Linked DNA regions of Homo sapiens. The protein of the gene in region 2 interacts with the protein of the main gene of each other region in a biochemical or structural test. Each region holds a gene or a part of one and is shown on either strand. Other genes may lie near its edges.

Evidence for each region. Proteins that work in one complex are often made in the same cells at the same time.
Region 1: the proteins of BANP (region 2) and PML form a complex in vitro, tested with the Homo sapiens proteins (one study listed by BioGRID).

The regions. Positions count from the first base shown.
Region 1 is NC_000015.10:73,997,716-74,001,647, reverse strand, and holds part of PML (protein PML), read right to left. Parts: intron 3,645-3,932; coding exon 3,172-3,644; intron 1-3,171.
Region 2 is NC_000016.10:88,003,099-88,007,462, reverse strand, and holds part of BANP (protein BANP), read right to left. Parts: intron 3,169-4,364; coding exon 3,052-3,168; intron 1,374-3,051; coding exon 1,198-1,373; intron 1-1,197. UniProt on the Homo sapiens protein: Controls V(D)J recombination during T-cell development by repressing T-cell receptor (TCR) beta enhancer function. Binds to scaffold/matrix attachment region beta (S/MARbeta), an ATC-rich DNA sequence located upstream of the TCR beta enhancer.

The DNA of each region.
Region 1 (3,932 bases), on a different chromosome or scaffold from region 2:
ATTATTAGGCAGGGCATTGTAGCTCACGCCTGTAATCCCAGAACTTTGGGAGACTGAGGCGGGTGGATCACTTGAGGCCAGGAGTTCGAGACCAGCCTGGTCAACATGGGGAAACCCCGTCTCTACTAAAAATAAAAAAAATTAGCCAGGCATGGTGGTGGGCACCTGTAGTCTCAGCTACTGGGGAGGCTGAGGCAGGAGAATCACTTGAACCCAGGAGGCACAGGTTGCAGTGAGCCAAGATCTACCACTGCACTCCAGCCTGGGTGACAGAGGGAGATTCTCAAAAAAAAAAAAGTTATTATTATTAAACAATAAAGATTGCAAATAAATGAATTATAAGTTCAAGAAGCTAGAAAATGAATAATGACAAAAGTTAGAAGGAAGAAAATGACAAAAATAAAATGATCAAACAGAAAGAAGGAAAACATTAAAATCAGTAAGCAATCTAAGGAAAGACTAAAAGTACAGTACTTTGAAAAGACTGCTAAACCACAAATATACAACATCAGAAATAAAAAAAGGGGGTATAGTTACAGGCATATAGGAGATTTTTAAATAATGAAAGATAACTCAGGATGAACTGGAAAATCTTCCAAAAATCTGACACAAGAGCCAAAACAGATTAATGCCATGGCAAAAATGGGAAAAGTTCCCAAAAATCTACTATAAAAAAGGCACCAGTTCCAAGATGGTTTTTCAAAAAACTTTTATAAGCCTAAATTTCTTATATTCTTCAAATTGTTCTAGAGCAGAGAAATTATAATAGAATTTTAACATTCACTGAGTATTTAATATGTGCCAGGCACTACGCTAAACAATTTATATGTACAGTTGGCCCTCAGTATCTGCAGGTTACGCACCCGTGGATTCAACAAATCTTGGATCAAAAATATTCAGGCGAAAAAAAATCAATTAAAAAAGTACCACAATAAAAAAATATACAAATTCAAAAATATAGTAAAACAACTCTTTACATAGCATTTACATTGTATTAGGCATTATAAGTAATCTAGAGATGACTTAAAGTATACAGGAGGGGATGGGTACAGTGGCTCACACCTGTAATCCCAGCACTTTGAGAGGCCTAGGGAGGGTTGCTGCCTGAGCCCAAGAGTTCTCAAGACCAGTCTGGGCAATGTCGTGAAACCCTGTCTCTACAAAAAATTTAAAAATTAGCTGAGTGTGGTGGTGCACACCTGCAGTCCTGTATAATCTGGTGGCTGAGGTGGGAGGATTGTTTGAACCCAAGAGATTGAGGCTGCAGTGAGCCACGAGTGCAGCACTGCACTCCAGCCTGGGCGACAGAGCAAGACCCCGTCTCAAAAAATAAAAATAAAATAAAAAATAAAGTATACAGGAGGATGTGTAGAGGTTATATACAAATACTATGCCATTTTATATCAGAGACTTGAGCATCTATGAATTTGAAACAGACTCCCATGGATCCCGTGGGATGGCTGCATTATCACGTTCAAAACATGAAAGCTTACAAATTCATTAAGAAATTAGTATAAGGCTGGGCATGGTGGCTCATGCCTGTAATCCCAGAACTTTGGGAGGCCGAGGCAGGTGGATCACCTGAGGTCAGGAGACCAGCCTGACCATTATAGTGAAACCCTGTCTCTACTAAAAATGCCAAAAAATTAGCCAGGCATGATGATGTGCACCTGTAATCGCAGCTACTTGGGAGGCTGAGGCAGGAAAATGGCGTGAACCCGGGAGGTGGAGGTTGCAGTGAGCCGAGATCGCGCCACTGCACTCCAGCCTGGGTGACACAGCGAGACTCCATCTCAAAAAAAAAAAAAAAAAATTAAAAAAAATTTTTTAAATCCAAAAGATAGAACCAGAGATAAAGCCAATTTCTCCTAATTTATTGCAATTTCAATCAAAATCCAATAAATATGTAAGTTTTAAAACTGCATAAATTGTAAGAGCAAAAGAAATGCATACATTTTTTTCTTTCGAGGAATTTGTTCCTGAATTCTTTAATTAGTCCCTTAATTCCTCAACGGAAACAACAACAACAACAGGCAAAGGACCTAAACAGGCCACTCGCAAATGCAGAAACACAATGGCCAATAAACAAGTGGAAAGCCACTCAACCTTTACAATAAGCTAAGAAACGTGGTGATACCAGCTGTTGAGGAGTCGGAGGGGAAAGCTTATTCTGATAGTGTGGGAAGTTTATCCTAAAGCAGGAAACAAATCACAGTCAGTTTAGCAGATATGTAGTTCAGCAAATATGTGGTTTAGCCATATATAGTTCTGAGTTGTCAAAAACCAGCGAAAAATGCTTTCATTTTGCAAGTGGATCTCTAAGAACCAAGAAGCGCCTTCTATGAACAATCTATTGCTAATGGTGAAAAGTTCACATAGTTATGCTACCTTTTTGGCTAAAAGAGGGAAAATAGGACCTGATAAGATTGCTCCTACCTGCATATATATTCGTAAAGAAACTCTCAGAAGAAACATTCAAAACTAGTAACAATGGCTACCTGTGGATGGGAAGAGGGAGAAGTGGTGGGAATTAGGCAGTTGGGCATGGACAGAAGATTGCACTCTCTCTCTCCTCTTTACAAATTTTGTTCGTGAACTGTACGAATGTATTACCTATTAAAAAACTGAGTTAAAATCTGTTTAATAAAAATAATTACAACTGGATGTGATTTTTTTTCCCCATACAGACATTCTCAGATAGCGCTGCCTGGTGTTAATGGTTTCAACTTTTCAGACAGAAACTAACTACTTGTCTCTGATCCTAGAATCCAGCCTTACTGAGATTCCGTGTCAGTGCTCTCGGAAAATTCCACTAAATTCTAAAGGGCAGTTTGGTAACATGTATCAAATGTAGAATTCCCGTCCCCCTACACCCAGCAGTGGCACTTCTAAAAATTTATCCTAAAGAAGTTACTGGATAAAGATGCAAAGATGATTCTGCAGCATTATTTATTACAGGAGGAAACTGGAAACTTACTATCCACCTGCGTGGGGACTGGCAGCATAAATTGTGGTCATCAACACGGACACTGCATATCTGCAGACCACATTTAGAGTTGCAAGGCCCCAGAAGCTCCTTGTCCTCAGCTGTGTGACTCTTTGGATCTTTGCTCCTCTCGCCCTCTACCTGGTACTTGGATGCACCACCCCACCCTGTGCCGGCCTACTCACCTGGTCAGCGTAGGGGTGCGGTGGTTGGGGTTGGAGCAGAAGATGTTGTTGGTCTTGCGGGTGCCGTCCAGGAACTCACGCACCGACTGGTTGCGCAGCTCTGCTAGGGGCCGGGCCTCGTGCTTGAGGAACCACTGGTGTGCCTCGAAGCACTTGGCGCAGAGGAGCTGCTCGCACTCAAAGCACCAGAAGTCGGCCGACTCTTTGCAGCGGGTGCACACAGCCTGCGCATCCACAATCTGCCGGTACACCGACAGGCGCCGCTGCAGACTCTCGAAAAAGACGTTATCCAGGGCGGGTGTGTCTGCACCTAGGGGCCAGGGCGCCTGGCAGATGGGGCACTGCATGCCCGACGCCTCCAGGCATCCTGAGCACAGCGTGTGCAGACAAGGCAGCAGCTTCGGGCACTTGGCTTCCGCCTGGCATTGCTGGCAGCGCAGAAACTGGAACTCCTCCTCCGAAGCGGGGGCTCGCTGGGGGACCAGAGAGGCAGGTGAGGCCTGGAGAAGTCCCAAAAGCCCCCACCTACCGGCCAACCACCCTTACAGCTGGACCCTGGAGTAGGACCTCATATTCCATTCCAGCCAGTCATTGGATGATGCAAAACCCTGGCTTATCAGCACCCCAATACCCCCATTTATTCAGGCCCTCCAGCTCTCACTGCACCATTTATTGAGCATCTACTTCTCATCACCCACAGTAATAGGCTCTGAGATATAAGAGGTGTAGGATACATTCTGCCTTCAAGGAACTCAGTTTGG
Region 2 (4,364 bases):
CACTGGGCAGGCCGAGGGCCAGGCGGGAGGGCACCTCAGAGCCCTGCAGGAGAGAGGCCCCCGCTAGGAGTCCAAGTAGGACAAACAGCTTCACATCCTTCCAGATCTCGGGGGAAATGGGCAATGCATCCTGTGCCATGGAACCCGTGGAAGCTGCGTCCTCTAGCCCAGCAACCTGCCTCTGAGAGCCCACGTCCAGACACTGATCCAAGAGACATGAAAACACAGCAGGCCAATGCTAGTTTCAATAACGAAAGGTTAGAGGGGGCCATCCCTGGAAAGCATCCAGACCTGATGAAATAAGCAAAACTGGCTAAAAATGACTCTGTCCATCTGCACTAACGTGGAAAGATTTCTACTGTGTAGGGGAAAGAAGTGAGTTATAAAATCATAAAATGTGCACCAAAAAACCCCAAAAGGTTTAGAGATCTCAGAATGGTGGGATCACAGTTATTTTCCCTTTAATCTTCATGTTTATACTGTATCACTATCTTTTTTTTTTTTTTTTTTTTTTTGAGACAGAGTCTCTGACGCCCAGGCTAGAGTACAGTGGTGCGATCTCAGCTCACTGCAACCTCTGCCACCCAGGTTCAAGCAATTCTCCCGCCTCAGCCTCCCAAGTAGCTGGGATTACAGGCACCTGTCACCGTGCCCAACTAATTTTTGTAGTTTTAGTAGAGATGGGGTTTCACCATTTTGGCCAGGCTGGTCTTGAACTCCTGACCTCATGATCCACCCGCCTCAGCCTCCCAAAGTGCTGGAATTACAGGTGTGAGCCACTGAGCCTGTCCTATACTGTATCACTTTTTTTTTTTTTTTGAGATGGAGTTTCCTCTATTGCCCAGGCTGGATGCAATGGCATGATCTCGGTTCACCGCAACCTCCACCTCCCAGGCTCAAGCGATTCTCCTGCCTCAGCCTCCCGAGTAGCTGGGATTACAGGCACCTGCCACCACACCCGGCTAATTTTGTATTTTCAGTAGAGACAGGGTTTCTCCATGTTGGCCAGGCTGGTCTCGAACTCCCGACTTCAGGTGATCCGCCCGCCTCAGCCTCCCAAAGTGCTGGGATTACAGGCGTGAGCCACCGCGCCTGGCCACTGTATCACTTCTTTAAAAAACAACAAAATTTCTAAAAGGCAAAACAAACAAACAATTGTACTGGCGCTCTGGCCGAGGAAAGCCGCCCTGGACGCACCTTCCGAGTTCAGGGTGATGAGCGTGACGTTGCTCCCGATGCTCTGACTGCCCGCCTGCCCACAGCTGGACACAGAGTCGCTGGCCTCCGAGCCGCTCTCCCCGTCCTCGTGGTGGCTGTCTTCTTGGCCCGGCACCTTCACCACAATGGTGTTCTGCCGACGCCCAGGCACAGCGCTAAACGGGAAAAAAAACACACCAGCCCGATGTGGTAAGAGCCGCAAGCAGCACGCGAAGGTCAGCGCTTTCCTTATCGCAAAATCTAACTCTGTGTGGACCAGTGGATCACACAGCCTTCCCATACTGCTCTCTCTACCAAGATTAATAGAAACTCCATGGGAGAAAATGGCCTGGGGCTGAAAGAAACTGTATAAAATAAAACTTAACCATTTAAAGAAAATGTTTGTATCACAAAAGGAGTAAAATCATACTCACTGGGACTCAGGCCTAGCATGCTGCCTTCTGAGTTCAGTAGTCATCCCATAAAATGCTGGTAAGAGTCTTTTTTCCGGCGAGGTTAAAGGGAAGACTAAATGAGGAAAACTGTGCCCAGAGGCCTGGGTCAATTCGATCCACGCTGCTGGGCTCGCTGGAGATGGCTCCCCCTCGCAATGCGAGCAGCACTCCCACGTACGCCCACGGGCAAAAAACCCTGACGGGGCTTAAAAAACCCACTGAGATCCCATCGGAGCTGCCATCATCCCAAGGGCTGCTGATGTGGAAGGACAGAACACTGCTAGCAAAGCAGGGCGAGGCCACCTCCACAAGTGCTCAAAAAAAAGGATGATTTAGAGACTTACTACTTCCCTTTTTTAGTGACCCTTTCAACATCCTCTACCGTGGACTGCTACGCACCAGCAGGAGAAAGGAGCACAATTTCTCTATATGCAAAGTCAAAAAAAAGGGTGTTGAAAACACTGGCCGCACCCAGAGGAGGGCGCTGCACTCTGCACTTTCTGGCCTGGATTCTCTAGAGCGCTGTCCACGCTGAACCTGATCTCAACACTGGCCATCTGCCTGGCTGACCTCAGTGCAAAGCCCCTGAGGCACAGCTGACCCTGGCACCTCCTCACCGCCCATCACCAACTCCTCTCCCTTCACCCCACGTATCAGACCCTTGCGACCACAGCTGCGGCCCTGGAGAACTGAGCTAAGACAATACAGAAAGGGGACGAAGCTGGAGGAGGAGGAATCCACAAAGGAGACTGAGAGAAAAAGCAAATAGAACTTTGTGAAGACACAGATGGGAAAGAAAAAGCAACAGCATCCTCAGGGGTTCACGCAGCCCCAGGGGCACTCCTGGGGACAGCAGGGCTTGGATGCCAGCCAGAGGCCACTGCACAGCCTTCCCCTCACACAGAGCGGGGACGGTGTCTTCTGTCCACTCCCACCTCTGACCAAAGTTCCATTCAAAATGTCTCAAGAGAAAAAGGTATAAGAAAAAAGTCATAAACTCAACATGCCTGCACCACTTAGCAACCGTGGGAGAGGGCGTCTGTTTGCCTGACACGCTCTGCACAGACAGACGTGAGGACCACTGAGCTAGGTGGGAGGATGAACGCTTTCACAGACTGCTGTGAGGAGACAGAGCCAGCCCCCTCCACAACCCCGGCCAGCACGAGACACAGAAGTCCCCGGCGGCAGCTGCCCCTGGTGTGGCTGGACTCAGCATTCAGCATCGCCCAGCCTGCCCTCCCCGACCTCAGAGAGCTGGGGCGGTGCCTGCCAGGCTCAACCCTGTGACCACAGAGATGAAGCGTGTGCTGGACTGTGCCCTGGCTTAGGGACGTTGACTTATTCTCATGGGACTCCGCACAGTGGCAGGGAAAGGTGGGGTTGGTGCCGTGCTACTGACTTGCTAATGACATTTTCCAGGGAATCCGGTGCCCTGTTGCTCAAGGGGTCTTCCATCTTGGCTACAATGGCGTTCTGCCGATCATTGTTGAGTATTACTGTAGTCTGGGGGACGACGCTAGGGAACAAAAGAATCACAAAGAAAAAGAAGGCCTTAAAACAACAACATTCATGGTAAGAGCACATAAGAGTCATTCAACACAGTCCACTCCCAGGGACCCGCACTGAGGGGGAGGCCTAAGAGTCATTCAACATAGTCCACTCCCAGGGACCCGTCCTGAGGGGGAAGGAGCCCCAAATGCTAAGGAAGAATAAACTGGAGATGGGGTTTTTAGCAGAACGTAACTTTTCCTAATTGTTGGTGATCTGTCTGCACAACTGGATAGCACAGGACAGCTGGGCTGAGGATGCTGAACTTGTGACAGAATAGACTGCAACCGCACCAGCTGTTATCGCACCCAGTTAATAAAGCTTCTAGGGTGGCACACTTGCATGAGAACTGGCTTGACATTTTCAGTCACTCCATCCCAACTCATTCCTATGGGACAGATCTAACGTTCGTAACCACGTAAGTGTTGGTATCATTCCAAAACGGTAGCGCCCTGGAAAGAAAGGGGCAAACATCACGTTGGACTTGGGATGGAAGGACACACATGCTGCCTCCAGGTCCTGCAGGAACATGTGTGAGCTACAACCAAAGGGCTCAGGGTTCTGCTTTGAAGGAAAAGATTCTACAAAAGAACAGACCATGGCCCAGAAACCAGCAAGCCTGGCGCCACCCTGGAGGAAGCACGAGTGTGTTCAGACAGGCGGCAGCTAACACAGCTTCATCTCAAAGTACAGACTCACCCACAGTTTTCAATCATGCGTTTTTAAGCCTTAGCACTTTCTGGTCACAAGGGATATCTAAGGTCCGCTTTGTTGTGGAAGGCTGGGGAGAGAAAGAACTAGCACTAGAAACACAACGTGATTATCACCTGACAATAAAACTCCATTCTTGGATTTCACTCTCCAAAAACCAACCTGGGAAGCCTGCCTTTCTGTGATCTGCACATAGGAAATTCTAGCCTAGTATCACTGTAACTGTCCCCACATTGAGTGCCAGCACAGCACCACGCCATGCTCAAGTAAATCACAGGACCACCAGGTTTTCTCCTAAAATAAAGGCATAATCAACTCCATTTCATTCAAAAATATTATTTTTTAAATTCCTCTACTTGTTATTGGTGACACCTAACGTTAACACAGCAAAACCTGACAAATGACCTATAGGTCAGGTATGGAAAGTAACCCAGGTGGCTTTTGGCTTGGTCA